3 separate regions of the Homo sapiens genome follow, and regions 2 and 3 are each linked to region 1. The links come from fine-mapping of genetic effects on gene expression. A gene starts in region 1. Each other region holds a variant in brackets. All regions are shown on one strand. Distances are between the middles of the regions.

Region 1 (4,240 bases):
GGAAAGTTAGCCACTTTAGACTCAAGGTCATCTGAACTCTGTTTCAGAAAACGCTACAGTTGTATGACAAAGAGCTACTTTTACACTTAGGAGAAAAGCTTCTGATTTCAAGATCTTAGAAAAGAAAAATATCCATACAGTGGAGGTGAGAAAAGCTGGCCCTGACAATTCTCTAAGACCAAAAGAAACTACCTCAGGGAATGTGGCAATCCATTAAGAAGCAGTGAAAATCTCAACACCTTGACTAACTTGTGGGGTTTAATTGTGGCAGAAAAACTTAAGAACAATGAAGGAAATGAATTGAAGACTGACACACTCCATGCTAGTTGCATGCTGAATACAATTTTAACCATGCTTGGGTGACAGGTCAACCCACTCTGGCTTAAAATTGTAAGAAATAAAATTCAACTAAGAACTAAGTTACAATACGTATTTCTTGTTGTCAACTCAGTCAATTTCAGTGGAAAAGACTTCTCTCCACAATGCTTCCACTGTGATGGGGTGTATCATAATCAACTCCAACACTTCAGACCAACAATTTTCATTTAAAGACATTTTAGACTCTACTGCATTAAACTGATGCAGAAAATTTGTCTACACAGTCTCAAAGTCCCTTATGGAATTCATTCAGCTAATTCAGAGACCAGATATGGCATACAAATTTTATATACTGATCAATCATACTTATTAGTATATAGATTACAGTGGTTAGAAATATTAGTCTAGCAGAAACTAATATACACACTACAGTCCAAATAAAAAGAATCCTGTCAAATAAGCTTGATGTAAATCCACATGAAAATCAAGGCTGCCAAAAAAAAAGGCTTTTGTTAGTCAAGCATACCAAAGAACTGCTTAAACCTTTTTTCCTTTCTAAGCGGAGCTCAAAATAGATTTTAATACTACAGCTGATGGATCTCACAATTTGCCTTTTGAGCCTATAAGCTGAAAACAGAATCATCTGCTGTCTCCCTTTACACAAGTAACAAAATCTCTCTATTCTGTATATCGCTTATTTAAGATACTGTGCAAGTGTGGTTTTAGTTAATCTTAACAACCCCCGCAATGACATTTAATTGGGAGTATGTATCTTATTCAGCTGCTTGTGAAAGGAAGAGCTCTTTGTGTTTTTAACTACTTGTTTTATAGATATATGAGAAACCCTCCTTTCCTAACTTTTTAACACACAAGGAGATGACTCCTAAGACAAGGTCATCTCTGCCACGACCAAAGACTAAGCTGCTCATTGAGGAAAGATGCTATTTTAGAGAGGGTTAAAACGTTAACCTTCCTGAGTCCCTGCCTGAAAGAATAATATCATGGCCCCAATGGAGTGGGTACCGCAGGCCTCCTGGCTAGAAGGTTCTTTAGCCCCATATTCTCACGGCTTTCTGCTCCTCTTGGTTCAGCTCACAAAGCAAATGTCTCCTCCTTTGACAGGCCTTCCCTGATCCCCTTCTCTAAGACAGCCGGCCTTCTATGCAGTCACCCTGTACCCCGTTAGGAAGTCGTTCTCTTCACAGCACCTGTCACTATCTGAAATTATTTGCTTTTGTGTTTGATTGCCCTATTCGACTCTAGGCCCCACTAAGGCTAGGATCTTGCCTGTCCTGATTAGCAAACACCACCTCCAATGCCTAAGCGGTGCCTAGCACAGAATAAGCTTGCCAACTCCTATCCAATAAATGAATGAACAGAAAGGGGAAAGGGGACTGTCATCTCTGGGACTCGACGCACACTGAGACTAGGGGAAAGGAAATGTGAAGGAGGGACGGGGGGAGTAACCTTTTCCCCCAGGGAGACAAAGGAAGAGAGTCTGAGGTGGTCCACTCCAGAAAAGGAAATAGTGGGGGTGCTAAATCACCCCAGGGGACAAAGAGTGGACAGGCAGGGGGCGGGGTCGGGGTGCGAGGGATTCGCGTTGAGAGCACAGACCGGCGGTCCCCCGGCTTGAGAGATCACCCGAGCTGGAGAACAGAAGGGAGGTGGGGGATCGAAGGGGGCTCCGACGCTGCGGCGAGAAACACGCCCGCCCCGGGGACAAAGGGTGGGGGGACGCAGTGCGTCGCTGTCCCATCGAATCCTCAAGCAGTAGGAGCGAGGCAGAGGGCAAGACCCAGAGGGAGTCTGGGGCCTGGAGGTCTGAGGGGATGTTCAAGCGGCCTAAGCGAAGGGCCCGCCACGCTCCGGGGCGCTCCCGCACCTGGTAAATGGCCGCCCAGCTCCCGGACTTGTCGATCTGCTCGAACTCCTTTTCCATCTCCATGACGGGCCAGGGCGGCTGCTGCGCCTCCTTCTCGGCCCACTGCGCCGTCTGCCGCTCTAGGCCGCGTCGCGCTCTTAGCCCCGAGGCCCGCTGCAATCCCCGACCCCTGCAGCTACCGCCGCCCTAGCCGCTGCTGCTTCTTCATGTCAACCGGCAGCCGGAACTACGCATCACGCCTGCCAGGGGCTCCGCCCCTGAAGCAGAAGGACCAATCAGCGATCGAGAATTTCGACAAGCACTTCCGCGGGGAGGAGCCGGGGGCGGTGCTAGGGGAAGTGGCCCCAGCACCGCGAGATATCTAATAGCGCGCGTTCCCTCCTCCGCTTTGGGGCTCTGGGCTCGGGCGCGGCGCGCGCCTGTTGCCTAGGCGACCCCGGGAGCCCCGCCCACGGCGCGTGGGCTCTCCAGGCCCGGGAGGGCATTGAGTTCCAGCCCCGACCCGGCCCGTTGAGTCACAGAGTGAGTGGCCTTAAAGTAGTCATGCACCTCCTTTCCTGCAGGGCCTGGGCCCCAGCCTCAGTAATCCAAGCTGGAGTATGGGAGGAGGGCACCGTGCTCTATTTCCTGCCTCCCAGCTCTGGCCAGATGTCTGCCCTTTTTTCATGAAACTCAGGAGTATCATGTTTCACTACGCTGCTGGGGAAGCCCACTGCTCTCTAAGGGTAGTGTCCCTGTCTGAAACGCAGAATTTCCACTTGGGTGCTGCAGGAATGAATGGATGGGGATGGAATGATTTTCAGTGTTTCCCGAAGTATCAAGGAACTCCTGCTCAGACTGAACTAAGCAGAGCACAAATTCCATGGTGCATTATGTTAAATAAAAATCATAGGAGCCCAGGCGCGGTGGCTTACATCTGTAATCCCAGCACTTTGGGAGGCAGAGGCAGGCGGATGTCTTGAGGCCAGGAGTTCCAGACCAGCCTGGGTAACAGAATCAGACCTCGTCACTACTAAAAGTTAAAAAATTAGCCGGTGTGGTGGGGCCCAGCTGCTGGGGAGGCTGAGGCAGGAAGATCACCTGAGCCCAGGAGGTGGAAGCTGCAGTGAGCTGTTTTGGCGCCACTGCACTCCACCTTGGGTGGCAGAGAGAGACCCTGTCTTGAAAAAAAAGGGCTGGGTGTGGTGGCTCACACCTGTAATCCCAGCACTTTGGGAGACCGACGCAGGTGGATCACCTGAGGTCAAGAGTCCGAGACCAGCCTGACCAACATGGTGAAACTCGGTTTCTGCTAAAAAAAAAAAAAAAAAAAAAAATTAGCCGGGCGTGGTGGCGCATGCCTGTAATCCCAGCTACTTGGGAGGCTGAGGCAGGAGAATCGCTTGAACCCTGGAGGCAGAGGTTGCAGTGAGCCAAGATAGCTCCACTGCACTCCAGCCTGGGCAACAAGAGCGAAACAAACAAACAAAAAAAGTTCTGGCATTAGGGTCTCAACAGACTAGACTAAAAATCAAAATGGAGTCACTCATGCTAAAGTTCTACATCATCAGACTGATAACCTTTCACAAAATCAGAAGAGAGATACACACCCTGATTTCCCAAGCAGACCGTTTTAATCAACATAATGAAGTTCCCTTTGCTTTAATCCTTACAACAAAAAGTAACCTGAAGTAACCCGATGCGACCAATCAGTTATTTCTCTCTTGTTCTGTTTCCCTGTTCCTGCCTTACAAGGAAAGTAACTTTGAAATGACCAATCTGCTTTTTGTTCTTTGTTTCTGCTTTTTTCAGCCCTTTTCTGTCTATAAAACCAACCTCCTCTGCTCAGCTCATTGGGACACTTGTGCTATTTTGAGGAATGAAGTCTTGCCCGATTCTAGAATCATGAATGAAGCCAATTAAGATGTTTAAGTTTGTTGTAATTTTGTCTTTTGACATTTACGGTCACCTGGGAAGTGTGTTGAATAATGCAGGTTCCTGGACCCATCGCCAAATGATTCAGATATCTTTGGTCTAGGGATGAGACCCGGAATCTGC
Region 2 (4,240 bases), 66 kb before region 1:
GGAACATTCATTCTCAGACTTTCTCCCAGGGTCCACACACCCAGTCAACAAATACCACACCCTGGGGCCAGGCCCTGGGCTTGACACTGAACCTGCAGGGTGCGCCTGCTTAGACTTCATTTCCCTTCGGATTGAAGAGTCCCCTCACCTCTTTTCTCCCTATCACTTCCACTGTCTACATGGTTACAACTGGTTTCTCTCTGTCTCACGAGTCACAATGATGCTGGGCAGCCACCCATAAAATCTTGTCATAAAGCCCTGCAAGGCCTCCCGTGAAAAAGTGAACAAGGAACAGCAGGTGAGGCACTGGCTCTGGGCAACTTTCAGACGGGGGCTTCAAGATGATCTGGAGGTTTCAGAGGATTGTCACTTTAGAGAAAAAAGTAGCAGACTTGGTCTCCAAAGACTGGTGACTCCAAGGTGTGGCTCAACACCCAGCTGAAGAGGCAGTCAATGCGAACGGCATCAGCCCATGAACCGAGTGTGTCCTACGTGCTGGCGCTGCGCTCTCCCACCAGCTGCTCCAGGCAGGCACTCCCATCCATTTTCCGATGAGGAGGTGGATGTTTGGAGGCAGAGAGTCCATGCTGAGAGCCTGCTGCAGACACGTTTGAAAGGTGGACCCCAGCCCTTGTCCCAGAATGTCTCTTCCGTGGCTGGGTCTGCCCCAGAGGAACAGAAGCAATGGCCTGGCGTCTGTTTCCAGCTCTGCTCCTTCCTTGAGGCTTCTGGCGGCTGTGATCAAAAGGCAGCCCTCACTGGGGGGAGTACGCAACATCTTCAATGACCTAAGAGCTCCTAGTAAATGGGAACCAGTCACTTGGTAAGCAAGGCCCTGAGAGGGAAAGGGCTCTGGAAGTGAAAGTCTCCTAACATGGGCCCGGGAAGACAGCCACAGACAGGAACCATACCAGCCTGGAGAGTTTCCCTGTGGCCCAGTGCCAGGGCCACCTGGCGAGCAGCTGATGGCAGAAGGATTCAGGCCAGAGATCTGCTCATGATGCCTTCCTTCACTTGACGAATGTCCACACTATGCCAATCATGTGCCAGTCACTGTGCCAGGGAGGCGGGGGCAAAGACACCACCTCACCCTCACAGAGCTCATGGCATAGTTACTAGGACCTCCCCCAACTCTGCTGGGATGAAAATAATACATATTTAACCCTGCCTCAGCCATTAAATACACTAGTAAATAATATTTAATGTTCATTAAATATTAAATACAGTATCTTGGCACAGAACAAGGAGAAATTTGTGTATGTTAGGATAATTGCTAGACTCACACTAGGCAATTCCATCATTCTTTCCTCTCTAGAAAATGGTATCCATATAACCTTAATGACATTAAAGAAGAAGAAATACCTCTTCTATTTGGTGGGTGGAGGCAGGTGGGGAAGAAAAGGACTTAAAATGTATTTTTAAAAAATTATTATTATTATTTTGAGACAGAGTCTTGCTCTGCCGCCCAGGCTGGAATGCAGTGGCATGATCTCGGCTCAATGCAACCTCCGCCTCCTGGGTTCAAGCAATTCTCTGCCTCAGCCTCCCGAGTAGCTGGGATTACAGGTGCCCGCCACCACGCCCGGCTAATTTTTTTTTTTTTTGTATTTTTAGTAGAGATGGGGTTTCACCATCTTGGCCAGGCTGGTCTTGAACCCCTGGCCTCGTGAACCACCCACCTCAGCCCCTCAAAGTGCTGGGATTACAGGTGTTAGCCACCGTGCCCGGCCGTTAAAATGTATTTTAAAATTGAATAAGAAGCAAGCATGCCAAATGCAAGTTTTCCTTTAATCCTTGAAGGTGTGGGTTACCGCCCACTGACACCCTCCCTCACACCTGCTCACCTCTTTCACAAGGAACTCATTCCAGCCTTGTGCTAGAACAGACAGCTATGGCTGAGAAAAGCCTTTTAAAAACAAAGTCTGTTGGAGCAAACAGATCCTAACATCAAAACCTCTGAGCTGGCTGTATTCACTCTGCCAAGCAAAAAGCGCACAGCTCTTCTGCTCTGTTGAAATTCAGTTTCCCTCAACAAGCAAATAGTTTCCCAGAAGTCACTCTTAATGTCAGGCTTGCAAATGCTAAAAAGCATTCTTTTAAAAGGCTACTGCATAAATCCTCTAGCACATTCCAACACACTGCCCATGTTACTCCTGAGAATCTTCCAGAAAGCACCTCCATCCACCGTACTCAGAACCCTCTGCCCCATCAGGGCTATGGCAGGGCTGGTGACTCCGGCGCGGTCACCACCAGAGGGCAGAAAGCACTCACATCAGCTGCACTGCTACCATCCTCAAGAGCCAGGCAGCCCGAACCCCTTGCCTACGTCCTGGTAACCTGTGCTACATTCTAGATCTTACTTCTACTATTTTTTTTATTTATTTATTTTTGAGACAGGGTCTTGCTCTGTCACCCAGGCTAGAGTGCAGTGGTGCAAGCATAGCTCACTGCAGCCTTGAACTCCCGGGCACAAGCAATCCTCCTGCCTCAGCCTCCTGAGTAGCTGGACTATAGGGGAGCACCACGATGTCTGACTAACTG[T/C]TTTTGTTTTTTTGTAGAGACGGGGGTCTCACTATGTTGCCCAAGCTGGTCTTGAACTCCTGGCCTCGAGTGATCCTCCTGGCCTCAGCCTCCCCAAGTGCTGGGATTAAAGACGTGAGCCACCGCACCTGGCTTACATCAACTATGAAATGAATGGCAGGAGCCATGATGATTAAAAAGTAGTACTTGAGAAGGGGAGGCATGGGGTAACCCAGAAGCAGATCCCTCCCCACCCACACAGCCCTGGAGCCCCACTCCACATGGTCTCCCTACGGCTCCACCTTCCCTTCAGATAAAGCCCGTGCTACACACCCATGGTAACTGCTAACCCTTCCCGTATAGGACCTCCCAGAACCCTCGCAAAACCTGAGTTTGACAGAAGAGGAAACGGAGACACTGTGATGAGCTAGTAAGGTGGGGCCAGGATTCGACCCCAGTTAGGTTCTAGAGGTTGGTGGCTGGCCACTCTTCACTGGTGCCCCCAGGTGCTGCCGCGCACTCCCTCCACTGTTCCCCAGAATGACATGAACACCCCCAAGTTACGGATCCAGGGGAATTATTCCAAAGCCCCAGGAGCAGCGCGTTCAGCGGCAGTGCTGCTTGCCACAATGCCTTGCCATGTTCCAAGACCAACTTTTACCAAGCAAGTAGCTGGTGTTATAAACTCTTCCCACAACAAAAAAACCCAAGACCTGGCCCAGAAAACTTTCACTAGCTATGAAACTGGAGTGAGCCCCTATACCCCTTCTTCCCTCTCTTCAGACTCGAAGACTGAGGACCACAAAGAAGGCAGCATGCTTCACTGGGACTTGCAGGCTGCCGCTCCAGTCCCTCTGCAGCTGCACAAGCAGGAACCAGTCTTTTGGGTAAGAAACTCTCCTTTCCCTAAGAACTGGTGTTAACTGTTGTTAAAGGTCAGAGAGAGCACTGTGGCCTCCACCCTCCCTGGGCACTTGGTAGGTACACAAGTAAGCTCCGCTCACCACAGTGCCCAAACCACATCTTGCTCGGGGTATACAAAAGCCAGGAACACTGACATTAGGTAATATCACCCAAGGGATAAAGGAAGAGGCATGTGAACCAGTAGCCGCCTGAAGTGCTGAAGTGTGTGCTATACTCACTGTAAGGTTTTCCAATTCTAGCTGTCGCACTGTATAATATGACTTGATATCTTCAGAGATCAATGTTAATTTCAAATTTGTGTCTTCAAAGATCATCTCTTTTTCTTCTTTTTGTGGCCAGTATTGTGCGCATTTTAACTGGGGAAACAAATAATAGTGAATTATTGTGAGCAATATGGCAGTTTTTCTATGGCAGGAGGCTTGGAGCACATCCCACAAGCTTCATGATAACTCAAAGGCCTGGGGGTTTCTGAACATGGAAGCCATGGTCAGCACAGATGCCTGCCTCATGGGGAGATGGGGGTGGGGGCACGAAGCTGCTGACCGGGGCAGGTTGTGCAGACAGGGCTCAGACTTCCAAACCCATCGGCTCCCCGGTCAAACGTGGCAACGGGATCCTGCAGGGCTCTGACGCTTTCTCACCGTCTACGAGGTGAAGCCAGATTGAACAAAAGGCTTTGAAACTCCTCTGTGTAGCCATTTCAAACATTACCCAGGACCTGATCAGGCTGCTGGCATAGAATGTAGGTGCCTTACCCTGCACAGAAAACTCACAGGCAATTAAAAATAAAACTGGG
Region 3 (4,240 bases), 39 kb after region 1:
AATTTCAAACTGTCTTCAATCTGCCTGCTCGTTTTCACCACTGCCACCTCTCAGGTGCAGCCACCCGCTCCCTGTCCCTCCCTCAGGGAACTGTCCAGCCTGCTAATCAGTCTCCTGACTTGCGTCTTGCCTTCCTCCAGTAGTTTCTCCAAATGGCAGCAAGATGCTTTTAAAATGGAAATCAGATCATCTTCTTTTGAATGTCTTCCCACTGCATTTGGACTCAAGACCAGACTCCTAAGTGGTGATCTACAAGGCTCAGCAGCCTCAGGCCACCACTTGTCACATGTCATCCTTCCCAGGCACACTCTTAGTTCCTGAAATACACCAACCTCTTTTTCAGCTTGGGGCCTTTTGCATATGCTGTTCCTTCCCACAATCAGTTATTAGTCCATTGCATATCTTTCTAAGATGGTTTATGCATGTACAAGCAAATGTGAATATATATTCTGTTCCTCCCCATTCCCTTAAAATGTTATGCGTCCATGCTGTGTGTGAATAAATCTGTAGGATGAACTCCTAAAAGCAGAATTGCCTTGGTAACAGCTATGGTCATTTTAAACTTAATGAATAATGCCAAAGTCCTCTTCATGTGGAGTCGCATCAGTTTGCGTGTGCTCATTTTCTGACACCCTTACCAACACAGTGGATTGTCAATTTGAGACTTTGGTTAAACCAGTGCAATGGTGGGGGCGGGGTGGTGGTAGGAAATGGTATCTCATTTCTCTTTTTATACATGCAATTGAGCTTTTTTTTTTTTAGTCGGAGTTTCACTCTTGTTGCCCAGGCAGGAGTGCAATGGTGTGACCTTGGCTCACTGGAACCTCCGCCTCCCGGGTTCAAGCGACTCTCCTGCCTCAGCCTCCCAAGTAGCTGGGATTACAAGCATGCACCACTACACCTGGCTAATTTTGTATTTTTAGTAGAGACAGGGCTTCTCTATGTTGGTCAGGCTGGTCTTGAACTCCCAACCTCGGGTGATCCGCCCTCCTCGGCCTCCCAAAGTGCTGGCGTGAGCCACTGTGCCTGGCCAAAACTGAGCATCTTTTGGTATGCTTAAGAGCCATTTGCTTTTTCCTCTTTTTGATCTTTTTTTGACCATTTTCCCACTGATTTGTTGGTCTTTTCTTTTCTTTTGAGACAGGATCTCGCTCTGATGCCCAGGCTGGAGTGCAGTGGCATGATCATGGCTCACTGCAGCCTCAACTTCTTGGGCTCAAGTGATTCTCCCACCTCAGCCTCCCCAGTACCTGGGACTATAGGCATGCATCACCATGCCTGGCCAATTTTTGTATTTTTTGTAGAGATGGGGTTTTGCCATTTTGCCAGGCTATTCTCGAACTCCTGGGCTCAAGCAATCCACCCACCTAGGCCTCCCAAAGTGCTCGGATTACAGGTGTGAGCTACCGCGCCTGACCTAAAACATTTGTTAATTTGCCCTTCTTCTCTCACCCTCTAAGATGTTAGCTCCTTGAGGGCAGGGACCACACACATCTTGTTCACCATTGTATTCCCAGCAGCTTCCACAGTGCCTTGCACACAGGAGGTGTTCATGGTGGACATCTGTAGTTGTTTACACCTTCTTTTTTTTTTTTTTTTGAGGTGGAGTTTTGCTCTTGTTACCCAGGCTGGAGTGCAATGGCGCAATCTCAGCTCACTGCAACCTCCGCCTCCTGGGCTCAAGTGATTCTCCTGACTCAGCCTCCTGAGTAGCTGGGATTACAGGTGCGCACCACCATGCCCAGCTAATTTTGTATTTTTAGTAGGAACAGGGTTTCACCATGTTGGCCAGGCTGGTCTTGAACTCCTGGCTTCAAGTGATCCACCCACCTTGGCCTCCCAAAGTGCTGGGATTACAGGCGTGAGCCACCGCGCCTGGCTGCTTCTAGAAAATTTTTATGCCTATGCGAGTATATTTATATGTATATGCCAACATATTGTTTCACTTTTCATTTACAAAAATGATTCTACTATGCATTCTGTTCTGTCCCTTCACTTTTTCATTTAGTAATATCCTCAATCAATGACTCAGAGGAAAATGGATGAGGGATATGTACACACAAGTACACAGAAAAGGAAATACAAATAGCTCATAAACATGTGAAAGGATGTTCAACTTCCTTTATAATAAGAAAAATGCAAATTAAAAGTACACAGAGATCATTTCTCGCCTATCAGATTGGCAAAAATCCAAAAGTCTGATAACACACTGTGTTGGCAAGCCTGCAGGCAAAAAAAAGCACTTTTGTACCTTGATGGTGGAGGTGGAAATTGGCACAGTCCTATGGAGGACAATTTGACCATATCTGTTGAAATGACAAATATATATACCCTTTGACGCAGCAGCCACAGATTCTGAAAATGTATCCATCAGATATTCTTGCTCAAGTGCAAAATGACATATATCTGGGATCATGTTTAGAGCAGAGGTTTATTGTCTATCTCCCTCATTAGAAGGGAGGACCTATGAG[G/A]GCAGGAACCTTGTTGGTCTTGCTCCCCCATGACTGCCCCAGCTCCTAGCACTGTCTTTGAACATAGTAGATGTCACAAAGACACCCCTCACTCAATATCTACATGCTCCTCTACCTTTCCCAGCCTTCCTTGCAGTAAGGTTGAAAGTACATGGCTCATTTATGCCCAATGGGATATGCAAAAGTGATGGAAGCTACTTTCAGGTCTGGCCGTTGAAAAATTCCATGTTACCTTCTAGCTCTCTCTTTGCCTACAGTGTTCATCTCTAAGACTTCCTTTTCCAGATAAAGAAGGTGAGGTAGGAGATCAGTAGGACTTATTTTCCAAGCACAAATCACAGCCCTGCTGATCAAAACAGGATGCAGTAAAGAAACTCGCTGAAACAAGCAGATGGTGACAAAAGTGACCTCTAGTTGCCCTCACTGCTCATAGCATAAAGACACTCCCACCAGCACCAGGACAGTCTGCAAATGCCATGGCAATGACCTGGAAGTTACCTTATATAGTTCTGGGAACCCTCTGCCACTTTTCTAGAAAATTCTGAATAACCCGCCCCTTCATTAGCATATAATTAAGAGTGGGTATAAATATCGGTAGCCCTGGTCTGCAAGGACTACTGCTCTGGGCTGTGGTCTTTGCTGCTGTTCTGGGCTGCTCTGCCTATGGAGTAGCCCTGCTCTGTCTACGGAGCAGCCCCTCTGCTGCACACTGCTGCTCTAATAAACTTGCTTTCTTTCACTGTTGGCTCACTCTTGAATTCTTTCCTGAGTGAAGCCAAGAACCCTCCCAGGCTGAGCCCTGATTTTGGGATTCACCTGCATCAGCCTGTTCCAGATGGAGAAAAGTACTCAATTTGTATCATAATGCAAAAGCAAGAAATGAACCTTTGCTGTATTAAGTCACTGCAACGCTGGCTTTGTCCCTGCAGTATAGCCTATTTTATTCTGACTAAAGTACTGTAGTAGGTGCTCAATAAATACTTGTTGAATAAATGTAAGCTGTAATGATCATTCTTGTGCCCTGGATGAGCTACCATGTTGCTGGGTACATATTTAATACTTTGGTAGATAGCACAAACTGTCCTCCAGAAAGTTTGCATCATTTTTTTTGTTTGTTTTACGTTGTTTGAGACAGGGTTTCACCCTGTCACCCAGGCTGGAGTGCAGTGGCACAATCACAGCTCACTTTAGCCTTGACCTCCTAGACTCAAGTGATCCTCCCACTTCAGGCTCCCAAGTAGCTGGGACCACACACATGCACCACCACATCTGGCTATTTTTTTTTTTTTTTTAATTTTTTGTAAAGACGAGGTCTAGCTATGTTGCCCAGGCTGGTCTCGAACTCCTGGGCTGAAGTTATCCTCCCACCTTGGCCTCCTAAAGTGCTGGGATTACAGGTGTGAGCCATTGCACCGGGCCAGTTTGCATTAATCTATACTCCCACCAACAGACATAATGATAACTCACACACAGAGATCTTGCTCTGTTCCAGGCACTATGCTCAGTGCTTTGCACATATGAAATAAATTCATGCCCACAACAGACCTATGTGGTAGGTACGATTATTGTCCCCATTTCACTGATGAGGCAATGGCAGCACTCGGAAATTAAATGACTTGCTCAAAGTCACACAGCTGGTAGGAAGGGGAGTGTTTTTAAAATTACAGATTTCCAATATCCTGCTTTTCAAATGAACTGGCCAAGGTCCAGGAATCTATTTTAAAAAGACTCCCCATATGCTGCTGATAGTCAGCCAGCTTTGGAAACCA

The links. PIP is the estimated chance that this variant, and not a neighbour inherited with it, causes the effect. A credible set is the group of variants that fine-mapping cannot tell apart.
Region 2: its variant is the best candidate, but not a certain one, in a credible set for the expression of PTPN1 in whole blood (TOPMed, PIP 0.58).
Region 3: its variant is the best candidate, but not a certain one, in a credible set for the expression of PTPN1 in blood mononuclear cells (TOPMed, PIP 0.58).

What each region holds. Positions count from the first base shown.
Region 1 is chr20:50,508,554-50,512,793 of GRCh38, reverse strand. It overlaps PTPN1 (protein tyrosine phosphatase non-receptor type 1), which reads right to left and starts at 2,411. Exons shown (of 10, transcript NM_002827.4): 1 at 2,204-2,411. The coding sequence starts at 2,266. RefSeq lists enhancers at 2,338-2,437, 2,650-3,237 and a silencer at 2,548-2,777.
Region 2 is chr20:50,574,077-50,578,316 of GRCh38, reverse strand. It overlaps PTPN1 (protein tyrosine phosphatase non-receptor type 1), which reads right to left. Exons shown (of 10, transcript NM_002827.4): 5 at 3,663-3,800. Among named protein-coding and RNA genes, the nearest start is that of MIR645, 9.6 kb to the left of the region's middle. The variant T/C (reference allele first, on the strand shown) is at 2,542.
Region 3 is chr20:50,469,324-50,473,563 of GRCh38, reverse strand. No RefSeq gene overlaps it. Among named protein-coding and RNA genes, the nearest start is that of PTPN1, 39 kb to the left of the region's middle. The variant G/A (reference allele first, on the strand shown) is at 2,472.